Linked DNA regions of Homo sapiens: region 1 is linked to region 2. The links come from fine-mapping of genetic effects on gene expression. A gene starts in region 2. The other region holds a variant in brackets. All regions are shown on one strand. Distances are from middle to middle. Region 1 holds the start of LOC101927759 (a long non-coding RNA gene). Region 2 holds the start of NQO2 (N-ribosyldihydronicotinamide:quinone dehydrogenase 2).

Region 1 (13,433 bases), 28 kb after region 2:
AAAAAAAAATTAATGGCTGGGCACTGTGGGTCATGCCTGTAATCCCAGCAATTTGGGAGGCTGAGATGGGATAACTGCTTGAGGCCAGGAGTTCAAGACCAGCTTGGGCAACATAATGAGACCCATCTCTACAAAAAATTTAAAAATATACATTAGTTAGGCATGGTGGCACGCACCTGTAATTCCAGCTACTCAGGAGGCTGAAGCAAGAGGGTCACGTGAGTCCAGGAGTTCAAGGCTGCAATGAGCCATGACTGTGTCACTGCACTCCAGCCTGGATGACAGAGCAAGACTCTTTTTAAAAATAGCCAGGCGTGATGGCTCTCACCTGGAATCCCAGCATTTTTGGAGGCTAAGATGGGCAGATTGCTTGAGTTCAGCAGTTTGAGGCCAGCCTGGGCAACATGGCGAAACCCCAACCCTATAAAAAAAAAAAAAAATTAGCCAGGTGTGGTGGCACACATCTGCAGTCCCAGGTACTTGGGAGGCTGAGGTGAGAGAATCGCTCGAGCTGGGAGGCAGAGGTTGCAGTGAGCTGAGATCACACCACTGCACTCCAGCCTTGGGTGACGGAATGAGACCTGTCTCAAAAAACAAATAAATAAATAAAAATAATTTAAAAATCATTAATTGCCAGTTACAATGAAAATTTAAAACTTTTAAAAAATTTAGTCTGATGGCATTGTACCACTGTGCCGTGTTCACGTAACCCTACTAATAATCACCCTGACACACAGCCACATGCAGATGGAGGAACTTCCCTAAAAGCAAGTTTGAGGGATTAAATATCATCTTTGTCATCATATCCTCCTCTTTTCCCTTTTCCTCCTCCTCCTTGTCATCACTACTGAGGACAGCACTGCTGGCTGTGCCCAGGGGCCCTTCTTCCTCAACGCCCCCAGCACCACCCAAAGTCCCCCTCTGTGGAATCGGAGCACTGAGTGTGTTGGCCTCAGGGACACTGAAGGAAGCCGCCCGCCCGTCCTCTCAGCCTTGGAGTCTGTTCAACCATTATCATTCAAACCACCTTCCATCAAAGGTTTGAATACAATGAGCAGCTGCTCCTGCATTCCTCCAGGACACAGGTTCACCAGCTGGGTGTCTGTCAAAGACAATGAGCCTCCGAGTTGGTCCAAACTTGACTCTCCTTGAAGGTCTTCTCTGGCCATCCTCAAAATCCACAGGATGAAATGTGTTCGATGAGGACAACTCACTCGTGTCGCGGCGTTTGGATGGGCTGCGGCGTGGCCGCTTCTGCCGTAGAGACGGAGCCTTCCTGTGGTTCGCGCACTTCCTTCCTGAAGCCTCATATTTCCCATTCCGTTGATACTTGGCCACCTCAACCTGCAACGTGCAGTTTCCAGTGTCATCTTCATCCAAATGCATGAATGCAAGATCCACAGCTTCCCTCTTCCAATGATCGCACAGCCTGTCTCCTTTAAGATGTCCTTGGTTATCTCTGTAAAACTTGACCTTAAGTTCTTCTGTCTGGGGATCGCTCATAATAATGCCAAATGGACAGGCGTGTGAATGCCTCCACGGTAACGACCAGAGGCAAACCGGCACATACACGTTTGTATTTCTCCTTCTTCAGCATGAAGCCTTCCTTTTTCTCCCCTCTTTGTGGGATCAGTGGGTTTGGGGTTTTTCTTGGTGGCAGAGCAGCGCCGTCACCGAGCAGCCGTCGCTGGCCTGATATGCAGCGGTGAAGTCTTCACTGGTTTCTCTTCTGCTCCTGTGTGCTTGCAGAAACCGGGCTGGCTCTTGATTGGGATTGTAGGCTGCAGAGGCTGGGGAAGGGCAGACAGCCTCGGGAGACACGCCGGAAAGGGCGGCTCCCTCGTGCTCCTCAGTGACTCAGGGTTTTGGCCACATAGCTCCCCTCCTCCACCCTCGCTCAGCAGGCTGCATCCGGGGCGGGGCTGGCAGGCAAAGAGGCTGTGTCACAGCCCTTCAGAGCCTCAAGCTGGGGTCCCTAGGGTTTCTGGACCTCAGATCACTGTGAGGCAGGAGGTCCTCCACCCTCCCTCCGGCAACTCTGAAGTATGGGAAGGTGCGTTCTCGAACTGCCGAGGGGCCTGTTCCTGTGTGGGTTGAGAGGATGGGAAGTTGCTGAAATCCAACCTCTCTGAGAGCCGGTGCTGTCACCTTGGCCTGAGTATGCTGAAGACATTAATTCCGGTTCCCAAGCAAAACTGTTAGCAATTCGAGGGCTGGGCTCTTGCCTATGTCTCATCTCCTGTTAGTACCGGGCACCCTGATACATTTTCTGCCGGTTTTTAAGAATTTTTTTTTGAGACGGAGTTTCACTCTTGTTGCCCAGGCTGGAGTGCAATGGCGCGATCTCGGCTCACCTCGACTTCCACCTCCCTGGTTCAAGCGATTCTCCTGCCTCAGCCTCCCGAGTAGCTGGAATTACAGGCATGCGCCACCATGCCCGGCTAATTTTGTATTTTTAGTAGAGACAGGGTTTCTCCATGTTGGTCAGGCTGAACTCACCCGACCTCAGGTGATCTGCCTGCCTTGGCTTCCCAAAGTGCTGGGATTACAGGCATGAGCCACCGCGCCCGGCCGGTTTTTAAGATCTTATTGCTGAAAAACTTAAAATAAAAAATAAATTCAGTATCAGCAGGGCAGCAGGAATTGCCATTAAAAAAAAAAAAAGAAAATTGGAAATGACTGCAGCCAGGTGTGTGTGATTGGGCCCCGCGACCTTTTTCTTAGGCAAACAGGGCTTTGTGGATGCAGAAAGACTTCTTTGGTTGTGTAGTTTGTCTCAGAGCCTCTCGTGGGTGGAGCCTGGTAAAAAGAGGAAAGAGACTCATGTTGCTCAATGTGAGGAAGCACCAGGAATTTTGGAGAAGTTCCCAGCAGCTCAGGAGAGTGGCTGGTGCCTTGTCCCAGGGGAGAGGGAAATAAGCACAGGCCTATTTCTTTCTCAAGACGGAAAAACCGAGCCCCAGAAAATGGCGATAAGATGGGGATGCAGGAAAAAGCTAGCTAATGAACAGTTCAGCAGTGGGCACCGTGTGGGAACCTCTCCTAAGCCGCCCTCCCTCTGATGGATGCATGCTCAAGTGATTTCGTTGGCCCTTAAAGGAAAGTGTTATTCCATCCTGTAATCCTAGCACTTTAAAAGGAGGCCGAGGTGGGAGGATCACCTGAGGTCAGGAGTTCACGACCAGCCTGGCCAACATGGTGAAACCCCGTCTCTACTAAAAAATACAAAAATTGGCCGGGTGTGGTGGCATATGCCTATAGTCCCAGCTACTTGGGAGGCTGAGGCAGGAGAATCACTTGAACCCGGGAGGTGGAGGTTGCAGTGAGGTGAGATCGTGCCATTGCACTCCAGCCTGGCCACAGAGCGAGACTCCATCTCAAAAAAAAAAAAAAAAAAAGACATCTGCCCAAGGGTCATAGCTGTAGAGGGGCAGATGTGGTTTGAACCCAGGGCGTCTGGTTCCTCTCTGGAAGCAACCAAAGTGCCTGTGATTGGGGTAGTGACAAAGCACTCTGAGCCGCTGCATGGCAGATGCTGTGAAGAGTCATCTTTGCCTGTCCCATATCTATTCCCATTTTTTCTGATTGTAACACCTTGTTTTTTTGTGTGTGGTGGGGGAACCATGCCCTTTCAACCAAGCTATGTGGTGTTCATAAGGGTAGCCCCTCCTCCGACCCCAGGAGTGGCAGTTCACAGCCCTGACTGATCACAGTGTTCCGTGGCCTAGCTGTAACCACCCCAGGGAGTGAGACTGAACTCAGGGGTTCATTGGACCTATCAGGAAAGAGAGACCTTTCTTGTTTCTGGACTTGGAGCTGTGATGAAGTAAGTGGGTCAGGGGCCAACACATAGACAGCGTTGGCCTACAAATGCAGCCCAGGCAGAGGACGGTGCAGCCAAGCCACACAGAGAGACAACTTCCTAGTGACACGCTGTGAACTCCTGCATCCACCCCTGCCTGAACTGGAGCTTTTCCTCTTCAGCTCTTCAGTTATGTGAGGCAAGATGTTGCCTTTTTTGCTTAATGCTGTGAGTTGAGTGTACAGCAGTTACAATCAAAGAATCCTAAATAATGCTGCAAGCATGGTGACTATCTACATGGGAATATGCAGTACTCCAGTGAAGACAAAACATAAATTAATTTTGGAATCTGATGACCATAATCTAAAAACATTCATAGAGGTATATAAAAATTATAACAAAATTTAAAGTAGCATATCTCCTCATGAAGCAGGTTAAGTGTATACACAAAGAAGGAGGAGGAAAAGGTGAGAAAGAATCTGCCCTTGTGGGGAAGTGACAGAGGCAGAAGAGGCTGATGCAGTCCTGCATCCAGGCCCAGCTCTGCCAGCAGCTGAGTACCCCTGAACAAGCTCCCCCACCTCTTCGGGCCTCACTTTCCCCATCTATGAAAGAAAGGGAGTCTAGCTTCCATAGCTGCCCCAGCTGATACGCAAGGTGCCAGTGTGTCCTCAGTCCTGTCAGGAGAAACCTTCCCCACTAGAATCCCAGGAGGAGCTTGAAATCCTGTCTGGGATCCTGACGGCCCAGGTGCTGACCCTGCCTCGGGTTGTGTCTGCTAAGAAGTCTGATTTCTGCTCATCTCTCCCCATTTCTTTCTTCCCATAAAGTGGGCTGATGCGCTGGAACGTCGATGCAGCCAGTGATGTGTTTGATGAGAATGTATTGAGAGTAAAGCTGCCCAGAATCCAAGTGTGTGTCATCTGAACTCTTGAATCATGGATGGAAGGTATGTCCTCTGTTGATGTCTCGCAGCCTGAGCTGACAATCTGTAAGAAGGTTTTGTTATCTTCATGTTACAGATGGTGAACCGAAACTTACAGAGCTCAAGTCACTTGACCAGGCTCCACCCCTACAAGAGGCAGCACGCAAACTAAAAACCAGGCGGCCTTTTCCAAAGCTTGTGCTCTGCTCCACTGCTGGAAGGAACCCTTCGGGGAATTGAAGCAGCACTGAACAAAGGCCATTTTTAAGAAGCGACACCAGAAACCTAAGGCGGGGTCCCCGGCTCAACAAGGATCTCATGTTTTGTGGGTCAGAGATTCTTGTGTCGTGTCTGGGTGAGGTCAAAAACCATGCAGAGACTTTCACTTCCTGTTCTGTGGCAGACAAGACATCTGAAAAGCTCTCCTGCAGCAACACTTCTAGATGCCAAGTAAATCACAGCAAGTGCACTTTTAAATGTGTTACTAAGATCATAAAAATGAAGGAAAATGCCCAAGCATATCCCCAACCCCTCACCCCACAACCACCACCACCACAATAAACAAGTTGCTGACAGTGGATTGGCAAGCGAGAGTGGAACCTTAGGCTGCGTTGGCATCAAATACTAATAACCAAGCAAAAGGGAGCAAGACCAGGCCTGGGGGCTGTGCCATTGAGAGGTGACCGCGTGCTGGCAGTCCTCACAGCCCTCGTTCGCTCTCGGCGCCTGCTCTGCCTGGGCTCCCACTTCGGCGGCACTTGAGGAGCCCTTCAGCCCGCCGCTGCACTGTGGGAGCCCCTTTCTGGGCTGGCCAAGGCCGGAGCCGGCTCCCTCAGCTTGCAGGGAGGTGTGCAGAGAGAGGCGCGAGCGGGAACCGGGGCTGCGCGCGACGCTTGCGGGGCAGCTGGAGTTCCGGGTGGGCGTGGGCTTGGCGGGCCCCGCACTCAGAGCAGCCGGGCGGCCCTGTCGGCCCCGGGCAATAAGGGCTTAGCACCCGGGCCAGCGGCTGCGGAGGATGTACTGGGTCCCCCAGCAGTGCCAGCCCACGGGCGCTGCGCTCGATTTCTCGCCGGGCTTTAGCTGCCTTCCCGCGGGGCAGGGCTCGGGACCTGCAGCCCGCCATGCCTGAGCCTCCCCCACTCTCCGTGAGCTACTGGGCAGCCCAAGCCTCCCCCAAGAGCGCCGCCTCCTGCTCCAGGCGCCCAGTCCCATCAACCACCCAAGGGCTGAGAAGTGCAGGCACAGGGCGCGGGACTGGCAGGCAGCTCCACCTGGGTGAAGCCAGCTGGGCTCCTGAGTGTGGTGGGGACGTGGAGAACCTTTATGTCTAGCTCAGGGATTGTAAACACACCAATTGGCACTCTGTATCTACCTCAAAGTTTGTAAACACACCAATCAGCACCCTGTGTCTAGCTCAGGGTTTGTGAATGCACCAATCCACACTCTGTATCTAGCTATTCTGGTGGGGCCTTGGAGAACCTTTATGTCTAGCTCAGGGATTGTAAACGCACCAATCAGCACCCTGTCAAAACAGACCACTTGGCTCTACCAATCAGCAGGATGTGGGTGGGGCCAGATAAGAGTATAAAAGCAGGCTGCCCTAGCCAGCAATAGCAACGAAGTCGGATTTGTTTCCATGCTGTGACGGTTTT[G/GT]TTTTTTTGCTTATTGTAATAGCTTTTGCTGTTGTACTCTTTTCTGGTCTACACTGCGTTTATGAGTTGTAACAGTCGTCACAAAGGCCTGCAGCTTTCACTTTCTGCCTCAGCCAGCGAGACTGCAAACCCACCAAAAAAAAAACTTAACTGTCACACCCACCCTAAGGGTCTGCAGCTGGGTTTTTGAAATCAGACCAAGAACCCACCAATTCAGAACCCACCAATTCGGGACACACCATGTGGGCAGCTGAATCAAGACTTTGTGGAGGAGCTCCAAAGTGGGTAGAAAAGTACGTTCACCCTTACAGGGAGACTGGCAGGCAGCCTTTTTCCTTCTCGGTAGAAAAATAAACTCCTGTTCCATAGAGTTTGGATTTGGAATTTATTGTATCCACAACCAGCAGTCAGCAAAATACAAAATGATCCCAAGTGATAAAAACCTTAAGTATAGTAAGTAATTTAAGTAAACATAAATTCTCTCTGGAGAAAACCATGATCTCATGGCTATTAAGATTCCCATTGATTAAGATGAGTGTAATATATGCTCTCCAGAATTATCAAACACATGAGGAAACAAAACATGATTGGAAATAAAAACAACAAGCAATAGATTTAATCACCCACAGTCTTCAAATATTGGCATTACGGGATATGTAACACAAAATAATCATGTATAAAATGTTTAAAGAAAGACATTCAAAAGTGACCAGATTTGAAACACAAAAGAACGTTTAGAATTAAAATACATGAAAGACTGAGTAAATTAAACATAGATTAGCGGCCAGGCACGGTGGCTTACACCTGTGATCCCAGCATTTTGGAAAGCCAAAGTGGGAGGATGGCTTGAGAACAGAAGTTTGAGACCAGTGTGGGCAACACAGCAAGACCTCATCTCTACAAAAAATAAAAATAATTAGCTGTGTGTGACAGTGCTCGCCTGTAGTCCCATCTACTCGGAAGGGTGAGGTGGGAGGATCCCTTGAGCCCAGGAGTTAAAGGCTGCGGTGAGCTATGATTGCACTGTACTCCAGCCTGGGTGACAGAATGAGACCATGTCTCAAAAGTAAATAAATAACAATATAGCCTAATTTATAGGGTTAAAAAGCAGATAAAATTATAATCCTGGGCAAAAATAATATATAGAGGGTATAATCCAAATAAAAACAGTTCTTTTTTCAGGGAGGGGGATAAAGCTAATGATTTAGATTTTTAAGTGATATATGTATATTCAAGTTTCTAGGATAAGTATTAAAATAATAGAAATTGAGGTCAAATTAGTAGAGGGGGAAAATGGAATAAGAAAAAACGCTATCATCCAAAAGAAGATAAGAGTGGAGGAAAAAAGTCAACAGTAAAAGAAGGACAAATTGAGGTGCAAAATACAATGGTGGAAAAAAAATCCTAATATACCTGTAATCATAAAAAAGGTAAATAGAAAAAAATGTCAGTTAAAAGAGTCTAGCTAGATAAAAAGCTTAAATTTAGCTACCTTCAGTTTACAGGAGATATATCTAAGCCATCAACACAAAATGTTAAGGGTAAAAGGACGGAAAAAGATTTACCATGCAAATACTCAAAAGCAGGTAGGATCGTTGTATGAATATCAAGCAAAAATAGACATTAGAGCAAAAATCATGATTAGGAATAAAGAAGGTCTCTGTGTAATGATGAACCCATCAATTCAATATGAAGTTACACCAATTCCAAACTTGGTATGTGTCTAATAAACAGCTTCGAAGTATATAAAGCAAACACTGAATTATGAAAAGAAATGGAAAAATCCACTATCAGAGTGGGAGACGTCAGGACACATCTCTTAGTAAGTGGTAGTCAAACAGATGCCATTAAAATAATAAATATTGGCCAGGCGCGTGGCTTACGCCTGTAATCCCATCACTTTGGGAGGCTAAGGTGGGCGGATCACCTGAGGTTGGGAGTTCGAGACCAGCCTGACCAACATGGAGAAACCCCATCTCTACTGAAAATACAAAATTAGCCTGGCGTGGTGGTGCATGCCTGTAATCCCAGCTACTCAGGAGACTGAGGCAGGAGAATTGTTTGAACCTGGGAGGCAGAGGTTTCAGTGAGCCGAGATCGCGCCATTGCACTCCAGCCTGGGCAACAAGAGCGAAACTCCCTCTAAAAAAATTTTTGAACAAAATTGATCTCATAGGTATAAAAAAATCACTGCACCCAGCAATGTAGACAATACCAGGTGTTAGTGAAACTGTGGGTCAACAGTTGAATTCATACTCTGCTGGTGGGTAGTGTCCATTAGTACATCGTTCAAAAATTCACTGTAAAATTGAGCATTTACACATCTCACTATACTAACCAATTAGCAAATAATTAACTACAGGTCCACACATCAAGATGTGTATATTTCATAATTATAAAGTTGAGTGAAAAATACAGGTTATAGATATCACTCAGTCCAAGTATAAAAACATACCAAATAAAAAATCACCTGCCAAATTCATGTGGAAAAGCATAATTAAATATTCAGGATAGTAATGTGATGGGAGGGGGCACACAGGTGTTTGAAGGTATTTTTAATGATCTGTGTCTTCAGCTAAATGGTGAGAACTCAAGTATTCATTTCACTGTCATGTATAAGTCAATTTCTATACAGTTTACTTTTATACATGTGAAATAGTTTGTGATAAGAAAGAGTAATATAAAATAAATCTGGATGCATATTGTGTTAAAAATCCTCTTGGCCAGGCACAGTGGCTCACACTTGTAATCCTACCACTTTGGGAGGCTGAGGTAGGGGAATTGCTTGAGCCCAGGAGTTGGAAACTAGCCTGGGCACCATAGTGAGACCCTATCTCTACAAAGTATTTTTTTTAAAGTTAGCTGAGCATAGTAGTACATGCCTGTGGTCCCAGCTACTCGAGAGGCTGAGGTGGGAGGATCACTTGAGCCCAGAAGGTTGAGGCTGCTGTGAGCCATGATCACACTACTGCACTCCAGCCTGGGTGATAGAACAAGAACCTGTCTCAAAACAAAACACCACTTGTTCCCCCGCCAACACCAAAACTTCTTGAGGCCTACCACCGAGGCAGGGCATGTTGCTTTGGGGACAATAGCTGAGTCAATGGCACCTTCAGAGTCCACACGGAGGTCTCCTTGGGAGTGTGAGCCCTGAACACTCAAGGGCATGTCCACCCTAGTGGACACATGTCCATGAGCCTGTGCAGGATGTAAACTCAACAGTGACCCCAGAATGGCAGGGTCAAAGCCCCCATGCTAGAGGATAAATCAGACTTTGCTATTATCTCACCTCTCAAGGTTTGAAAGAAAACACTCAGCATTCTTGTGCTATTAAGGGTGGAAGGGCGGCTATTAAGGGCATTTAGGGACCGATGAGATGAACTGGATTTTGTTTTTGTTTTGAGGCAGGGTTTCACTCTCGCCCAGGCTGGAGTGCAGTGGCACGATCATGGCTCACTGCAGCCTCGACCTCCCAGGATTTCCCACTCCTGTGCAGCAGAGGATGCCAGGTGCACTTGATGTCGGGCTGGCTGTCACGAATATGCCCTTGAGCTGCACAGGCTGCAGGTGGCAGCAGGGCCCTGGGACAACCTCACAGACCCGCCCCACTGACGCTGGCTCCTAGAGAGGTGGTTGCTGGCCGATCTATCAGGGGCTTCTCCTTTTTGCCATATTCAGATTGGAGCCATAAATTAAATTCTCAGGAGAAAAAATTAAGCTACTTTTAGAAGTCATGAAACATGGGCTTTGGGGATCAGGATTAAAAACTTTAACAATAACATTGCTTAATTCTCAACTCCTATTCTTGGTAGGATGAACTGAAACCAGTGATTTTACCATTATGTACAATATTTTTTCTTTTGAAGGGCCTGAACAGACGGTTCCAAATCCAGGCTGTATCATTATAATCACAGTTTCCCTGGCTCACACTTCAGCGTTTTGCCTTTCATGCATCTCTCTCTGGCACAGAAGCTATTTGCCCATTTGTCTTCCAGAAAGACGAGAAGTCTTATAGGGATTTCTGAAATGAGAATGCGCCACACTAGGGGTGGGTGAGGTGCCCACATAATCGAAGCCGTGAGACATTGCCACTGCCAGATTTCTCCCCATTACCTGTATCACCACCCAAAGAGGATGGGTCTCAGGCTCCCAGGATCTTTGGCCATTCTTTCTGCTTTGTATTAGGTATCAAATTCCCTTGTGCTTGGAGGAGAAGAAAACCTAAACATTCTTATGATCAGATTGATATTTGTCAGGGTAGGACCATGGCTAAGAGCAAAAGTCAGTGCCCTGGTGAATTCAACATGCAGCATGAACTATTATTATTCTCAGAAGGACAAGGCTAAAACCTCTCACCTAGAATAGCCACATTATATCAGACTTTTCATAAAGTTTAGTTATTTCATTTGGAGAGGGCATAGATTTATTCCATCTTATTTTCCAAGACTGTGTATTGTAAAATTAGACGAAAGTAAACCTTATAAGTTATCCCTTAAAATAGTGTAAAATGATCACCATTTTAAGAGTATGTACTAAAAGTCTTACTTTTCAGCTTTGACTACAGTGATGCATTTGCTAATGGTTTTCTTCTTCCTTGAATTATGACTAAGAGGAATTTTTTCCCCATGAGGTTCTTTCACTGCTCGTGACTTAGGTAAGAAAGTGGTCATCATCTACGTGCATCCTTGAAGAACATGGGTGTGGGTGAACTGAGCAGGCAGGGCTGCACAGTCACTGTGTCTGATTTACATGCCATGGACTTTGAGCCAAGGGCCACAAGGAAAGACATCGCTTGTGAGTTACTGGATTAATTAATGTCTTAGTCTCTTCTTTAAGGATTCCCTTTCTTTCTTCTTAAGAAACTGTCCCACTATGACCACATATTGAACGGCATAACAAGGGCCAGGAATAGGGGTTTAGAGAAAGGAACTAATGGTACTCCTTAACATTTCCAAAATATAAACATACACCCATAGTTCAAGTGCAGACAAATGAATGCCCTCAGTCACTACTCAGGAGGTACCTCCCAAGCTTATGCGCTTGAGATGCATTTTCATCATTACTAGAATATAACAACCTTGGCCAGGTGTGGTGGCACACACTTCTAATCGTAGCACTTTGGGAGGCCAAGGCAGGAGGATTGCTTTAGCCCAGGAGTTCAAAACCCACCTGGGCAACACAGTGAGACCCAGTCTCTAGTTTAAAAAAAAGAAAGAAACAACTTCATTTGTCTCCAAATTTTGCATTGGTCGTATTTGCCTTTCTCAATATTTTCCGAATGTCAAGTATAGATTTCTTAATAGAGTGTCCTAGTCAGTTCTAGCTGCTATAACAAAATACCATAGACTGGTGGCTTATCAACAACAGAAATTAATTTCTTACAGTTCTGGATGGTGAAAGTCCAAGATCAGGGTGCCAACACAGTCCGGTCCTGGTGAGGGCCCTCTTCCAGACTACATGCTGCCAACTGCTCGTTGTATCTCACATGGTGGAAATAGGGTGAGAGATTTCTCTGAACAGCTGGGACTACAGGCATGCACCATCACGCCTGGCAAATATTATTTTTTATTTTTTGTGGAAGTGGGATCTGGTCTCTCTGTGTTGCTCAGGCTGGTCTTAAAACTCCTGGGCTCAAGCGATCCTTCTGCCTTGGCCTCTCAAAGTGCTGGGATTACAGGGGAGAGCCACCATGCCTGGCCACTTAAAATTGTTGAATTTTATCATATGTAAATTATTCCCTGTAGTGGGATGAATTGTATCCCCCTCAAAAGGCATGTGCAAGACTTAACCTTTGGTACCTGAGAATGTGATCGTATTTGGAAACAAGGTCTTTGCAGGCATAAGTAAGTTAAGGATCTCAAGATGAGACAATCCTGAATCTAGGGTGGACCCTAAACCCAGTAGCTGTGTTGTTATAAGAGAAAGCAGAGAGAGATTTGAGACCCAGAGAAGCCTCCGAGGGGAAGGCCATGTGAGGCTGGAGGCAGAGACTATAGTGAGGCTGCTGCAAGCCAAGGGCACCGATGATTACCTACGCCCACTAGGAACCAGGAGAGAGGTATGGAACAGATCTACCCTCACAGTCTCCAAAGGGAACCAGTCTTGTCGACATCTTGACTTCAGACTTCTGGCCAGATCTATGAGACAATGAAATTCCATCATTAAAAAAAAAAAAAACAGAAAAAACAAAAACAAAACCAAAAATACCCTCCAATGATCCATTACAAATATTCTAGAAACCAGGAGAAAGGAGAAAGTCTCAGTAAAGAAATCGAAGATATAAAAAAGAAACAGGCCAGGCACGATAGCTCACGCATCTAATCCTAGCACTTTGGGAGACCAAGGTGGGAGGATCACTTGAGACCAGGAGTTCGAGACCAGCCTAGGTAACATAGTGAGAACCCATCTCTACGAAAAATAAAAAAAAAATTAGGTGGGTGTGGTGGCACGTGCTTGTATTCATAGCTACTTAGGAGGCTGAAGCAGGAGGATTGCTTGAGCCCAGAAGTACAAGGCTGCAGTGAGCTGGGATCACGTCACTGCGCTCCAGCCTGAGTGTCACAGTTATACTGTCTCGAAAATAAAAAAACAAAAAGAAGCAAATGGAAATTTTACAACTGAAAAATACAATAACCAAAATACAATCTCAAACTCCAAACAACATAAACTGACAGAAATACACATCCAGATATATCATAGCAAAACACATGAAAATAAGGATAAAGAAAAACTCTTGAAAGCAGGCAAAGAAAAAATATATATATTACCCATAGGGGAACAACAATTCAAATGGCTGCAGATTTCTCATTAGAAACCATTTATCTCAGCAATACAGAGAACTAGAGATGGAAAATCATCAAGGAGATGACATTCCATCACTGGTATGGTTGGGATGTGTGTCCCCTACGAATCTCATGTTAAAACGTGACCTCCAATGTTGGAGACAGGCCTAGTGGGAGGTGTTTGGGACGTGGGGGCAGATCCCTCATGCATGGCTTGGTGCCGTTCCCTTGGTGATGAGTGAGTTCTCACTCTATTATCTAGTTGAAACAGC
Region 2 (15,628 bases):
TGTGCAGATGCGCCACAGGGCCCACCACTCAGTCACTGTGCCACCTCCTGGAACTCATGCCTGCTTGCTGTAAACCCACCGAATAAAACTCCCCATGGGAAACCTGTTTGGATAACACCCTGGACCCAATAAAGGTGTTGGCCCATGGGTTGCTGTCTTGGTCTCTCTGCCTGCACTCCCTGATTTCCATGAAGGTGGCCTCCAAGTATGCCATGTGCCCCAGGATCTGTAAGTAATAAACTATTTCTAGCCTGTGTCTCTCCTAATCGTTGTAGGGGTGCTCCGCATCTTGAAGATCTTAAAGTAAAACAGATACATTTGTGGAAACTAAGGTCCCAACGTTGTACATTACTATTAACTCCAGGCTTCATTTGGGTTTCAGTTTTTTCATTAATATCAGCCTAAGTTTTTAAAAAATAGTCAGCCGAAAAGAAGGATTTAATTTTATGTGGTAATTTCTGCACAAACATAATATTCTTGAGAAACATCTTGTCTATCAATAACATGTTTAACTATATATTATATCAATATGCTCAAGAAATCAGGCCTTGGTAAAGATTTTTCTTTTTTTTTTTTTTTTTTGGGACGGAGTCTCGCTCTGTCGTCCAGGCTGGAGTGCAGTGGCACGATCTCTGCTCACTGCAAGCTCCGCCTCCCGGGTTCAGGCCATTCTCCTGCCTCAGCCTCCCGAATAGCTGGGACTACAGGCACCTGCAACCACGCCCGGCTAATTTTTTGTATTTTTAGTAGAGACAGGGTTTCACCATGTTAGCCAAGATGGTCTCGATCTCCTGACCTCGTGATCCGCCCGCCTTGGCCTCCCAAAGTGCTGGGATTATAGGTGTGAGCCACCGTGCCCGGCCCCAAGATTTGTCTTTACTAAGTAATGCATGTGAAATATAATAACTGACAATGATAATACAGTGACCAGGTAACTCAAAAATTATAAGTCATTCAATTGAATAACATAGTGTTTTTGAAATGTAAAAAGATAAATATAAATAATAAGTCATATTAAGACAAAATTTATTTAACTGATAAAAGTAAAATTTGTTATTCTCTCTAGCTGTATAGATAAGACAGGATCTCTATAGTGCATTATTTCAAGACTTACTTAGTAGGAAAACCAGTAGGTTTGATTTTTTTTTAAATGCCACTTTGGTTTTAAAGCACTCGCTTTGTCCACTAGTTTTCTAGATCTGAGTATTGGCTATTAATGACATATTTCTAAATTATACACATCAATAATGTGACAATAGCTTCAGGTCAGGAACTACTGTGTGATTTAGATGTTTGTTCCTTCCAAACCTCATGTTGAAATTTGTTTCATCTTTTTTCTTGTTTTCATAGATAAGGGCCTCGCTCTGTTACCCAGGCTGGAGTGCTGTGGTGTGTTTGTGACTCACCGTAGCCTTGAACTCCTGGGCTCAAGCAATCCTCCCACCTAAGCCTCTGGAGTAGCTGGGACTACAGGTGAGCACCGCCAAGCCTGACCTCAAGTTGAAATGTGATCACCAATGTTGGAGTGGGGCTTAATGGGTGGTGTTTAGGTTGCAGGGCCAGATCCTTATGAATAGATGAATGCCCTCCCTCAGGGGTGAGTGAGTTCTTCCAGAGCTGGTGGTTAGAAACAATCCTTGACCTCCCTCCTTTCTCTCTTGCTTACTCTCTTGCCATGTAATCTCTGCACACTCCAGTTCTCCTTCACCTTCCTCCATGAGTAGAGGCAGCCTGAGGCCCTCACCAGATGCAGATGCCCAACCTTGAACTTTCCAACCATTCAGAGTCATTAGCCAAATAAACCTTTTATCTTTATAAATTACTCAGCCTCAGGTATTCCTTTATAGCAACACAAAACAGACTAAGACAGGAACCTACACTCCTTAGAAGAAGGCCATATGATATAAGGGTGTTGAGTCTAAGATTTTAGTGTCTACACTTCGTCTTACATTTTCCATTCTTTCCATTTTCACAAGTCCTATGATACAGTTGAAAATCTTTCCTACGCACTAGTAAAGCCATAGGAACTTAAAATTATTAAGTGTCAAGCACATATGAAAATCAGACAATGTGCAAAGAAAAACGGGCTATGTGTTGCATGAGAACGAGGAACTAATGTTCAGTTTAGGGATATGAACTGTTCAGAAACTTGGTCTGATCAAAGTTATGTCAGCCTTAATAGTAATCTGACTGATAAACAACTAATACTTGAAAGACGGTACTGATATGGACTATTTCACCTGGAGATTGTTTACTTGATAACTTTTTTTTCAAGTTCTGCAAGGTGATTTAACATCCAAAAATATATAGTCAATCCTGGGTATTCATGGAGGACTGGGACCAGGACCCCTCAAATATATCAAAATCCACAGATGCTCAAATCCCTGATATAAAATGGCATAGTATTGACACATAACCTTTGCACAGCCTCCCATATACTGTAAATAATCTCTAGATTACATATAGTACCTAATACAATGTAAATGCTATATAAATAGTTGTTACACTGTATTTTTATTTGTATTTTTTTATTGTTGTATTGCTTTTTCTTTCAAATATATTCCATTGGAGGTTGGTTGAATCAGCAGATATGGAACACACAAATACAGGAGGACAACTATATCTAAATCTAGATTAATGTAAGCGGTGAGAAAATATTTTATCTCCGTCTAAGTAGGTCCTACCAGAGGGGAAACTAGACTCACTCAAAGATTGCTTTGATCAATCCACACACAGTTCAGTGATGGACAGAGTGTCAGTATCTGTTATATGTGTCACTATCCCATGCTAGAGGTGTCAATAGATTATGTAACCTTTCTGAGGAATCACAATACAATAATTGATAATAATATTGATCACATAAACATAGACTTCCTTGACACAGGATTGCCACAGACCTTCAATTTGTAAAAAAAAAAAAAATGCAACATCTGTGGAAGTACTATAAAGAGAAGCAGAATAAGGCAGATATGCCTGTATAAGACTAAGGGAGAATCTTAAAAGCTGCAAGAGATGTACAAGGGATCCTCAATAAATCCATACATCTGTGGCCAGTGAATTTTTGACAAGAGTGCCAAGTCCATTCAATGATGAAATAATAGTTTCTTTAATATATGCTGTGAGAGAAATGGATTTCCACATGCAAGACTAAAGTTGGGCTCCACTTCACACCATATGTGAAAAATAATTCACAACCTAAATATAAGAACTAAAGCCATATAGAGGAAAACGTAAGAGTAAATCTTCATGATCTTGTGTTTTGGGTTCTTAGATAAGACACTAAAAGCCCAGGAAGAAACAACAAAAAATAGGTAAATTGGAGTTCATAAAAAATGTGAAACTTTTATATCAAAGGACATTTTCAAGAAAGTGAAAGACAACCTACAGAATGGGAGAAAATATTTGTAAATCCTATGTCTGATAACATCCAGAATATGTAAAGAACACCTACAACTCGGCCGGGTGCGGTGGCTCACGCCTGTAATCCCAGCACTTTGGGAGGCCGACGTGGGCGGATCACCTAAGGTCGGGAGTTTGAGACCAGGCTGACCAACATGGAGAAACCCTGTCTCTACTAAAAATATAAAATTAGCCAGGCGTGGTGGCGTATTCCCGTAATCCCAGCTACTCGGGAGGCTGAGGCATAAGAATCACTTGAACCCAGGAGGCGGAGGTTGCGGTGAGCCGAGATCTCGCCATTGCACTCCAGCCTGGGCAACAAGAGCAAAACTCCGTCTCAAAAAACAAACAAAAAACCTACAACTCAACAACAAATAGACAAACAACCCAATTAAATGGTCAACAAAGGACTTGAATAGACATTTCTCCAAGGAAGGTATACAAATGGCCAGTAAGCACATGAAAAGATGCTCAAAGTCATTAGTCCTTAGGGAAATGCAAATCAAAACCACAATGAGATACCACTTCGCACTTGCTAGGATGGCTATAATTTAGAGGGAAAAAAAAGAAACATAACAAATGTGCGTGAGAATGTAGAGAAGTTGGAACCTGTGTACATTGTTGGTGAAAATGTGAAATGGTGTAGACGCTGTGGAAAACAGTTTGGCTGTTCCTCAGAAAGCTAAACATAGAATGACCATAGAATTGTAATACCGACAATTCCACTCCAAGGTGTATAACCAAAATTATTGAACACAGGGACTGAAACAGATACTTGTACACCAATAATCATTGCAATATTATTCACAATAGTCAAACAACAGATGAGTGGATAAACAATGCCTGGTACCCTTCCTTCCTTCCTTCCTTCCTTCCTTCCTTCCTTCCTTCCTTCCTTCCTTCCTTCCTTCCTTTCTTTTTCTTTCTCTCTTTCTTCTTTCTTTTCTTTCTGTCAGTCTTGCTCTTGTTGCCCAGGCTTGAGTGCAATGACACAATCTCAGCTCACCGCCACCTCTGCCTCCTGGGTTCAAGTGATTCTCCTGCCTCAGCCTCCCGAGTAGCTGGGACTACAGGTGCACACCACCATGCCCAGCTAATTTTTGTGTTTTTAGTAGAGATGGGGTTTCCCCACGTTGGCCAGGCGGTATACACATTTTTCTATTATTCGGCCATAAAAAGGAATGAAGTTCTGATGCATACTACAACATGGATGAAACTCAGCAACAAGGTTTTTGAGGAAAAAAAGCTTAGTGAAAAGGCCACATCTTGTAGGATTCCACTTATATGAAATACATGCAATAGACAAATTCATGGAGACAGAAAGTAGATTAGAGGCTACCAGGAGTGGAAGGAGGGGAGAATGGGGATTTATTATCCAATGAGTGCAGTGTTTCTATTTGTTTTTGTTTTTGTTTGAGACAGGGTCTCGCTCTGTCATCCAGGCTGGAGTGCAGTGCCACGATCTCAGCTCACTGCAGCCTCCGCCTCCTGGGTTCAAGCAATTCTCCTGCCTCAGCCTCTGAGTAGCTGGGATTACAGGTGTACACCACCTGGCAAATTTTTGTAGAGATGGGGTTTCGCCATGTTGGCCAGGCTGGTCTCAAACTTTTGACCTCAGGTGATCTGCATGCCTCTGCCTCCCAAAGTGCTGGGATTACAGGCGTGATCTATGGCCCCTGACCCAAGTGTTTCTATTTGGGATGATGAAAACGTTTTGAAAATAAATAGTTGTAATGGTTGCACAGCACTCTAAAGGTAATTTATGCCACTGAATTGTACACTTAAAATGGTGAAAATAGAAAATTTCATGTTATACAGATTTTGCTACCCAAAAAACAAAACAAAAAATCCAAAACCTTTATGTTATTATGAAGAAGCAGTTTTCCAAAGGAATAGGGATGCTGGTAGCAGAAGGGAAAGAAATCTCATTAAATAAAAACAAAAGCAATGACCTCTTCAGGAGGTGGCTCAGCTAGTTTAGCTTTACCTTAGCACCATGATGGTTCATTTTATTCAGAAATAGAAACATGGGGCGTTGGGGAGAAGAGGAGATGTGTACCTGCCTCACCTGCCTCCCTGCCCAGAATGCCGACTCCGACTCTTGCTTTCCACTAAGGCTGGGGATTAAATGAAAAGTGAGAATCTGGAAACCCCCAGAGATGATGTTTGTCGTTGGAGCTGATTTTATCTCATTTTAGTAGCATGACCTCCTCCTCAAACTCAGGATGCAATTATGGTCAATCTCATTAGTGTGCAGTAATTGCTCAGCCCCAATACCAGATTAGCAGGAAGTTCTGTTATTTTCCTTTTGAGGATGGGCTCCTACTGAACTGTCCTGGAATCTACCACCATTCAGGTTACAAAAGACCCAGGGAACTAGGCCAGTCCAGCTCCCAACCCCAAGCAGGGAGCAACTTGCTCAGTCCACGTTGTGATAGCTCCTCGCTGCCACAAGGTGGTGATGTTGCATCACACACGCGCATGATGGGCGCGCAGGCGCCAATGCTCCCAGGACCTGCTGTTCCATTCCTAAATGAAAGTTGTTCCCAGGATCTGGACTCACAAGACAAGGCAGCCTATTCCCTGCTGGGGAGCTCAGGGGCAAGAGGGCATCTCGGAGGGAGGGCACATTCTCACCTCTGAAGACAAGGAGAACATCATCAGCACATAGACCAATCCCAGCAGTGCACCTTAGGATGGGGAGGGCCACTGTGAGTTACAGCAAAATGAACGAATGAATGAACCAATAAATGTCTGAGAGGGAAAGTCCCAACGACCCTCAGGAGGTACAATCAAGAGTTGCAGTTATTTTCGTTAGGAACGTTCTAAACACAGGGGAAACCTTCCTTCCTTCTGCTCTATTGTTGGAGTGGGGCCATCCCGGGACACCAGAAATCAAGGAATTGAGTTTGGAGAAGGGACTTGGGGAGGTCACAGTGGCAGGTGACTGCCAAATGAGGTGGCAGAAGCCAGCAAGCGCTGGAAAAAGTCGGCCCAAACTGTTCACCAGCACCGCCCCCCATAACTCCCCACCGGCTCTGGTTTCAAGACTTTCCGTTTTCTAGGTATTTCCTTGGCCTTAAACCATTTTCCTTTAAACGAACTTTTTCTGTGAAGCCATCCGGTTTCCCCCGATAGTGGCATCTCACAAAGGACAATCCAGTATCCCAACAGCGTGTTGCGTTCCGCGGGACGCAGATTTCCTTCACAGGCACCCCCCGGGTTGCGTTTTTATAGCCACACCCACCCGCCCCCCTATCTCCTGGGCACTGCTAATGAGTCCTGCATTTCTCTCCTTTGGTCTTTGGATAAATGAACCATCCGTGCGTGACCTTTGCGAGGGCATCTTGCATAATACCAGTACACCAGCGGCGCCGTCGGTGAGTGACCTTTGGGACTGGTTTCTCTCACCAGCGTAACTCCCCGGGAGATCCGAGCAAGCTGATGAGTGTATCAGTGGCTCATTCTTTCTGTTGCACCACGGACCCTCATTCTGTAACCGGGATACCAGCCAGAGATGGGGAGCGGGAGGCGCAGGGCAGGGGCGTCCCTCCTCTCAGCACAGCCTCCCCGCGCTGGATTTCTATCAATCCAGTTTCCACCTGCCTGGAAGTCAGCAGGGTCCTCCCCAGTCCCAGATCGCCGGGCGAGGCCCCAGATGGACCTCAGGGGCGGGGAGTGGGCGGAGCTTAGGGGCCGAGGCGAGGTGTGGGTGGGGCGGGACGCCGCTGTGGAGGCGGGGCCTGGGCGCGGACGGGCGCGGAGCGAGGCACCGCACCGCCGGGGCGGGGAGTGGGCGGGGCTCGGGGGCGGGGCGGGGTGTGGGCGGGGCTCACGGGCGGGGCGGGTGAGTGGGCGGGGCCTCGGCGTGGTAGGCGCGCTGCGTAAAGAGGCCTGCAGTCCCGCGGCGCGGGGCAGGTTCCGGGCTGCTTAGGTTGGCACCGGTCCGTGGTCCCCGGGGGCGCAGTCGCAGCGCTCCCGCCCTCCAGGCGTCAGCGAGTGCGCGGTCCAGTGCGGCCGGAACCTGGCGCAACTCCTAGAGCGGTCCTTGGGGAGACGCGGGTCCCAGTCCTGCGGCTCCTACTGGGGAGTGCGCTGGTCGGAAGGTGAGTGATCCCCTGTCGGGGACCGGGGGACTTGGGAAGGACAGTTCCCGGACTGGACGGCCAGAACGCTCTCAGGGATTTCAGCTGGCCGGCCATATGGCCCTGTGGGTCGTCGCGCCCGGGCCAGGGACCATTCTGTACATAGGATCGTGCTTGGCTCTCACGGAACGCGCCCACACGCAGGGTCCCGGTGTCGAATCGTCTGGTGGAATCTGCCCTCAACCCTATGGAGCGGGTGCTGGTATCATAGTCATATTACAAGTAGGAATCAGCGGGCCCAAGGTCAGTCTGTAAAGGGGGTACCGGGGTTTAGGCCCGTGCGCTGCCCAGCGCTGCCCTGAAGGCGCGGCTGAACCACTGGTTTGCGCTGCCTTTGTCAAGGACATTGTGGCACTGTGGAAAAAATGAAAAATCAGCTTCTCTAACCTATAATCTCTCTGGGAAAAAAAAAAATCAGCTTTTTTTTTTTTCCCCGAGACGGAGTCTCACTCTGTCGCCCAGGCTGGAGTGCAGTGGCACGATTTCGGCTCACTGCAACCTCCGCCTCCCGGGTTCAAGCAATTCTCCTGCCTCAGCCTCCCGAGTACCTGGGATTATAGGGGCGTGCCACCACGCCTGGCTAATTTTTTGTATGTTTAGTAGAGACGGGTTTCATGTTGGTCAGGCTGGTCTCAAACTCCTGACCTCGTGATCCGCCCGCCTGGGCCTCCCAAAGTGCTGGGATTGCAGGCGTGAGCCACTGCTCCCGGCCCTCTTTTTCTTTTTTCTTTTTTTTTTAGAAGAGTCTCACTCTGTTGCCCAGGCTGGAGTGCAGTGGGGCAATCTCAGCTCACTGCAACCTCTGCCTTCCAGGTTCAAGCGATTCTCCCCCCTCAGCCCCTTGAGTAGCTGGGATTACAGGCGCCTGCCACCATGCCCGGCTAATTTTTGTATTTTTAGTACAGGTGGGAGTTTCACCATATTGGCCAGGCTGGTCTTGAACTCATTCTTCTTCCTTTCTTTTTCTTTTTTTTTTTTTTTTGAGATGGAGTTTCACTCTTATTGCCCAAGCTGGAGTGCAATGGCACAATCTCAGCTCACTGCAACCTCTGCCTCCCGGGTTCAAGCTATTCTCCTGCCTCAGTCTCCCGAGTAGCTGGGATTACAGGTGCGTGCCACTACACCCAGCTAATTTTTGGTATTTTTAGTAGAAATGGAGTTTCACCATATTAGTCAGGCTGGTCTCAAACTCCTGACCTCAGGTGATCCGCCTGCCTCGGCCTCCCAGAGTGCTGGGATTAATGAACCACTGCGCCCGGCCAAAAATCAGCTTCTTTAACCTTTAATCTCTGAAAAAATAAATCAGTTTAACCTTTAATCTCCGAAGATCACAGCCAAAGAAATACATGAAAAGGAACAAGTATTAAATAATATATACTTCTAGCTGTGCTGTTTATAGTTTTGGGAAAAAAATGGAAATAACCTAAGGTCCCAGAAATAGGAAAATGGGCACAAAAGGGTATGCAGGCAATGGTTTAGCTGCCGCATGAATACACACTGAATACACTGTGAGATGTTGTCTGTTAGAATGCCCAGCACGGGGACTGTCCACATGGAAAGAGGCACAGGAAAAAAAGTGAAAACATTATAAAATAACTTCTTAAAATTAAATAATGTACACGTCAAAAATATCAGAGCCCACTTGACCTGGTATATACAGTTTAATAACCACATGGCTCTTTTTTCCTGTAGGCCTGGGTAGGTGCATAGTTTCTAAAAAGGGAGAGAACTGTCACTGCTGTGGATGGGGTGCCAAGGGAAGTGCCTGGGGTCAAGTGAACAGTGACACAACTGCAAGTCAAGAGCCTGTGTTGGAGTCTTTCCCCACTATTTCAAATAGTATAGAAAATAGAGCTGAGTCACTCAAATAGAGCTGAGTTAGTCACTCAGCTCTTGGACCTCAGATTCTTATTCTTAACCGCTAGGGGGATGGAGACAGAAGTCACAAACTCACATGCCACCAGCCATATGATGTAAACATGTAAACTGGGCCAAGGAATACAAAAGGGAGTGGTGAGCTGGGGACACTGAAGAATGGATGCCCTGTCTAGAGGAGTGAAAATGAAGCATTTCATACAAACAACATGATTTCGGGCAATCACTTTGGGAATCAGGATAAGGTGTTCCCCCAGTCTGCAGAAACACTGGCAACATTTACAAAGGTAAATCATTTCATATCACTCTATTTTCTTTTTCTTTTTTGAGACAGAGTCTTGCTCTGTTGCCCAGGCTGGAGTGCAATGGCACAATCTTGACTCACTGCAACCTCCACCTCCCAGGTTCAAGTGATTCTCCTGCCTCAGCCTCCCAAGTAGCTGGGACTACAGGCACATGCCACCATACCCGGATAATTTTTGTATTTTTTAGTAGAGATGGTGTTTTGCCACATTGACCAGGCTGGTTTCAAACTCCTGACCTCAGGTGATCCCCCCACCTCGGCCCCCCAAAATGCTGGGATTACAGGTGTGAGCCACCACAACTGGCGATCATTCCATATTACTCTCCAGCTTAAGAGGCTCCAAGGGCTTTCTGTCAGGCTTAGAATAAAATCCTCACCCCTACCCTAGGAGGGGTCAGGTCAGACCCCTCCCACCTCCCTGACTGCATCTACCACCATCCACTCTTTTTTTTTTTGAACCACAGTTCAGCCAAACAGGCTTTCTTTTTTTTCTTTTACTTTCTCTTTTTTCTTGAAACAGAGCCTAACTCTGTCACCCAGTCTGGAGTGGAGCAATCCTCTAATCTCAGCCCCCTGAGTAGCTGGGATTACAGGCATGCACCACCACACCTGGCTAATTTTTAAAAATCTTTGGTAGAGATGGGATCTCACTATGTTGCCCGGGCTGGTCTCAAATTCCTAGGCTCAAGTGATCTCCTGCCTCAGCCTCTCAAAGTGCTGGGCCTTCTGCTTCCCTGGGCTTTGCCAGGCCTCCCTATGCATTGTGATAGCCAAAGTTTGCTTTCTACAAAGTCACCTCCAGGCAGTGACTGTCCACCAGGGCACTGTAGAGCCTCCCAGCTAATGATGAAGTCACTCACTCTCCTCTCTTTTTCCTTTAAGATAATCCCTTTCCAGACCCGCCATTTTGGCTCACCCTGTAAGTTACAGCCCCACTTCTCACTGCCAAGTGTGGGTGTCACTGCTGGCTCAGGGAGCATGGATCCTGTAAACTTGCCTCATCGGGAGGCTTTGAGGAGTGACCCCCAGGAACTAGACAAGTAACTTGTTCTTCACAATCACTGCCCTCCCAAGAACATCCAGGATTTCAGCCTCAGTGCTAAGACAACCATGTCTCTCCCTGACACATGCTCGCTGCTGAGAATTCTAGGAAAAGCAGAGGGCTGTGCAGGCGCCCCTGCCCCTAGGCTAGGAGAGCTGGCAAATGCCTGGAGACCCAAAGGCCTCATCCTCAGGGCGGCCAACTCTTCTGTTTTAGTGATATACAGACTATCTTTTATTGTGATTTATAGTGCAACTTACCGGTTCAAACAATACTACCTGTATTCATAAACTTTCTTTTTCCTTTCCTTCCTCACTGCCCAGCTTTAGGTTCATTCTTGTAAGTGTTGCTGGTGTCAGAATAGGAACCTCCCTGCGCTTTGAAGGGATGAATGTGACCTCTCCCACATTCTCCGGTGCTGTGATGTACCTTAAACACAGCAAGGTACTTGGACACAAAGCCTGTGCCTGGAGCACTTTCAGACAGACAGTGCATGGCCCTCGCTACAGACTCAGTGCCATTGTAGATGTTTCTGCATGGAAAATACATAAACACAAATATCTGCAGTTGCCAATCCACCACCATCTTGCAGCCCCAAGAGAGCCCCGGGAATCCAGGTTCCTTTGGTATTTCTGCTCCCTGCCCTTGGTGCATAGCCTCCATCCCCAGGACGACAAGAAGGCTGACTGAGCCCTAACATCATCCCACAGTCCAGCTGGGAAGAGAGCCAGCGACAAAGCCAGAGGGAGCTAGCTCCCACACCTCCCAGCCCCAGCTGAGTTCGCTTCTTGAGGGTATTTCTTGGAAGCCCCGCCTGTGACTTCTGCTGACACCTCACTGGCCATCTCAACTGCAAGGCAGCCTAGGAAATGTAGTGCTTACCTGTACACGTGGATTCCTGGAATCAATTCAGGGTCTGTCCTTGGGGAACCAGAGTGGGGATATTCAGTCACTAAAGATGCAGGTTCCCAGCTGTCCAGTGAAGTCAAGCGAATGGGGAAGGATTTGAAGTCACCTTTGGGTGTTTGGAGTGATCAGAGCTGTCTGCCCTCTTGGGGAGTGACAGTGCCCCACTCTGTTAAGTCCCATGCCTGCCCCCAACTCAGCTTCAGCCACAATGATGTAGCCTCTTTTCCTTTCCATCCACAGGGCACCTGGCCTGGGTGGAGCCCACTCCTCAGCACCCACCTCACTTCTTGCAGTATTCTGCAGACCCCAGCCCTGTGCCTGTGCTCCTGGACAGCTGGAGATAAGGAGTGGGCCCTGGAAGATGCTCATTCAGGCCCTGCTCAAGATTCCAGTCCTGGTGGGGATAAGCACCACTTTTGTGTGTCTCTGTGCTTTTTGTTTTGCTGTAAAGACACACTGATAGGTTCACGTTGTCGTTTGGACACAACATGCGCGATGCGTGTCTTCACACTAAGCCCTAGTCACACTCTCTGCATTGTTTTTTTATCCCATTTTTTCCTACTGTGGTACAGAACATCTCACATAAAATTGACCATTTTAACCACTTTTTTTGTTTGTTTGTTTTTTGTGTTTTTGGACAGAGTCTCGCTCTGTCTCAGCCTCCCGAGTAGCTGGGATTACAGGTGCACACCACCACGCCCGGCTAATTTTTGTATTTTTAGTAGAGACGGAGTTTCGCCATGTTGGCCAGGCTGGTCTCGGACTCCTGACCTCAGGTAATCCACCTGCCTCAGCCTCCCAAAGTGCTGGGATTACAGGTGTGAGCCACGGTGCCTGACCTCATTTTAGCCACTTTTAAGGGTAGAATTTTCTGGCTGTTTTCATTCATGTACTGATAGACACTTGGGTTGCTTCCATGTTTTAGCTGTTGTGGAAAATGCTGCTTTGAACATGGGTGGGCAAGTGGTTTTCAAGACCCTGCTTTCAGTTTTTTGGGTTCAGAGTAACGAATGGAATTGCTGAGTCATATGTTAATTCTCATTTTTCTAATTGTAATTTTTGGGGGCACAGCACCTCTCCAGCAGCGGCAGCACTCGACCTTTCCCCAGCGGTGCACGGGGTTCCAACTTCTCCGCATCCTCACCTACGTGTGTTTTGTTTTTTGGTAGTAGTAGCCATTCTAATGCGTGTGATATGGGATCTCATTGTGGTTTTGATTTGCATTTCCCTAATGATTAGTGATGCTAAGCATCTTTTCATGGCTTACTGACCATTCATACATCTTTGGAGAAAAGCCTACACAAGCCTTCTGCCCATTTTTGCATTGAGTTGTTTGCTTTGTTGTTGTTAAGTTTTATCTGAGCTGTTTTTTTATGGTAGGGAGAGTGGGTTTGTTGGAGTCTCCTTGTATCTCCCAGAAGGAAGCCAGAATTTCAGAGATGGCCAGGAGGGGGTGAGGCCAAAGGCTCCCCTGGGGAGAACTCACGTTTTTCCAGAGCCCCATTGTGTGCCAGCCACCGCACATAGCAACTGTCTCTCTCTCACTCTTCTGGGCCATGCTGTGACTTTGTTGATGAGGAGGTTGAGGCACAGAGGGGTGGAGGGATGTGCTGCAGGGCCCACAGCTACAATGGGCAGAGCTGGAAATTGCACCAAGTCTGTCTGATGCGGGGGTCTCCTCTGCTCCTCTGGCCTCCGCTGCATCCCTGGAGAATCTCTGAGACTTCTGGTTAGAGCCTGGGTCTAAGCCAACTCCCATTATTTTCAAGTGAGGGGAAGGGCCGACAACTGCCAGTGCTGGCCCACCAGAGTCTGGCACCAGCCGAGGAGTGCACGCACCCATTGGTGGTGTGGCGGTTCACTGATCCCCCAGCCTTCTGCTCGATCTACGGGGAAAACTGGGGAAGGCAGGAAGGCCAAGGAGGCTCAACTCCTGCTTCCTACCGTGGCTCATTTCCTGGGTCCTTTGCTGTATGACTGTCTGGATGGAAGGTTCAGAGTCCTCTCAAAAAAGGAAAAAAGTATGGGTTTTGACATCCTGCGTGGCTTGTCCTCTGAGGCCTAAATCTCCAGAAGATTCCTGGCCTCTCTTGAGAGGTCTTTCTCTGATGTGTTTGCGTGTCTGTCAGGAAGCAGCAGTGATGCCTAGATGTGGTACATTCGACCTCACCTATGCCTCTCCCCACCCCCTCTGGGTTCGTTTTGTCTTCCAGATTGCTGGACTCGCTGAAGAGAGACTACGCAGGAAAGCCCCAGCCACCCATCAAATCAGAGAGAAGGAATCCACCTTCTTACGCTATGGCAGGTAATGATTCACTATTGTGGAGTAAGACTTTTTTTTTTTTGAGATGGGATTTTGTTGTATTGCCCAGGCTGGTCTCAAACTCCTGAGCTCAAGTGACCCTCCCACATTGACCTTCCAGGTGGGAGTTAGACTCTTAATCAGAAATTGGATACATTGTTGTAAAAAATCCAAGCCACGTGGAAGTGTATAAACTATCTGGAATTATCTTGTTTTCTATGTTCTCACTTGTTTCATTGTTCCTTTCGACTCCCTCCAGAATTTAGGTTCCTCAAAAGTGGGGCCCTGCCTATCCTGTCTTTGCTGTGCCTCCAGGCCCTGAAATTCTCCCTGGGCTGTAGCAGGGGCTCAAGTGAATGAACCCCAGGAGGCATCTTGGGTAAAAATTCAGTACGATTCTATCTTTGCTTTTGCAACTGCTTATCATGCACATATACATGAACATGCAATCTCTCAACTTTTTAATTTCACCTAACGATATAACATGGAGAGCCTTTCGTGTTAGAACGCACAGGTTCACCTTACTCTATACATTATGGTGTAGATTCGGATTTTCGCCCTTGGCACCACTGACATTCTGGGCCAGATAATCCTATGTTTTGGGGGGTCATCCTGTGCACCCTGTTTAGCACCTAGCACCATCCCTGGCCTCTGCCCACCAGATGCCAGTAGCACCCCTCCCCCACCGGCTGTGACAAACCAAAATGTCTCCAGGCATTGAGAAACGTCCCCTAGCAGGCACAACACTGCCCCAGTTGAGAACCATTGGTGTAGGTATTTCATTTGCATCTATTCTCCTGTTAAGCCCCTAAGTATAGTTCCTTTATTGAAACAAGAGTCTGAGAAAGTAAAATTAAAATGTTAACCATGAATCTAACTTATGGAATTCAACCTTTGTAGCCAGCTCAATGCCCTGAAACCCATTGCTTCAAACTGATACGTGTATCTTTTCCTTAAAGTGTCATTATGAAAAATTTAAATCAAGAGTTTAACATCTTCTTAAAGGTGACCAGGGTAAATTTAATTAAGCAAATCACCAGGCTGCCTCCCAGACGAAGTCAGTATATAAGCCTGGAGACTCTTTCCAATGAGGAAAATACTGCTTCAGAAGCCCCTGGTGTGAACGATACTGCCAGTGCCAGGAGGGCCTGACTCTTCCTAGAGTCCTCTTTGTTATCAGCATCACCACTGAAAGATGGGCTCCATGTGGCCCTGCCTTCCCATGAGACCAGCGGGTCTGATTCCTCATGTTTTGTTTAAGTGTCAGATTTGATGGACTGGGGGAGATGGAAGCAGAACTGTGCCACACTGAAAGGTGCCTGTAGCTGATATCTGCAAATGTAGGGTTAGCATGGAAGACTAATTCCAGCAGTTCTTTATTTTGGTGTTAGGGAGCTGGTCTAAACCTTCTTACAGAGGATAACCAAATTAGGTTGGGCTTTTAAAAGATTTAGTGGTGGTATTTTTGAGGAGATATAATTTGACCCATTGTATTGTGATGTTGAGCTATGAATAACTGGATTTTTAAAATGCCCATTGCTTTAAAACTGCCACCTATTAGAAAGTTTGGTATTTCTGGGGCCAGGTGCTGTGGCTCATACCAGTAATCCCAGCACTCTGGGAGGCCAAGGTGGGCAGATCACCTGAGGTCG

What was found. PIP is the estimated chance that this variant, and not a neighbour inherited with it, causes the effect.
Region 1: its variant is fine-mapped to the expression of NQO2 in thyroid (GTEx, PIP 0.93).

The regions. Positions count from the first base shown.
Region 1 is chr6:3,022,121-3,035,553 of GRCh38, forward strand. LOC101927759 (a long non-coding RNA gene) reads left to right here and starts at 1,943. Exons shown (of 3, transcript NR_152848.1): 1 at 1,943-2,053; 2 at 4,633-4,751; 3 at 4,825-5,314. It also overlaps the pseudogene HTATSF1P2. RefSeq lists enhancers at 1,117-2,316, 3,760-3,869, 4,838-4,997 and a silencer at 3,355-3,649. The variant G/GT (reference allele first, on the strand shown) is at 6,380.
Region 2 is chr6:2,992,581-3,008,208 of GRCh38, forward strand. NQO2 (N-ribosyldihydronicotinamide:quinone dehydrogenase 2) reads left to right here and starts at 7,314. Exons shown (of 7, transcript NM_000904.6): 1 at 7,314-7,505; 2 at 13,888-13,979. The coding sequence starts at 13,973. NQO2-AS1 (NQO2 antisense RNA 1) reads right to left here and starts at 7,095. Exons shown (of 2, transcript NR_186367.1): 1 at 6,811-7,095. RefSeq lists silencers at 1,333-1,517, 7,063-7,312.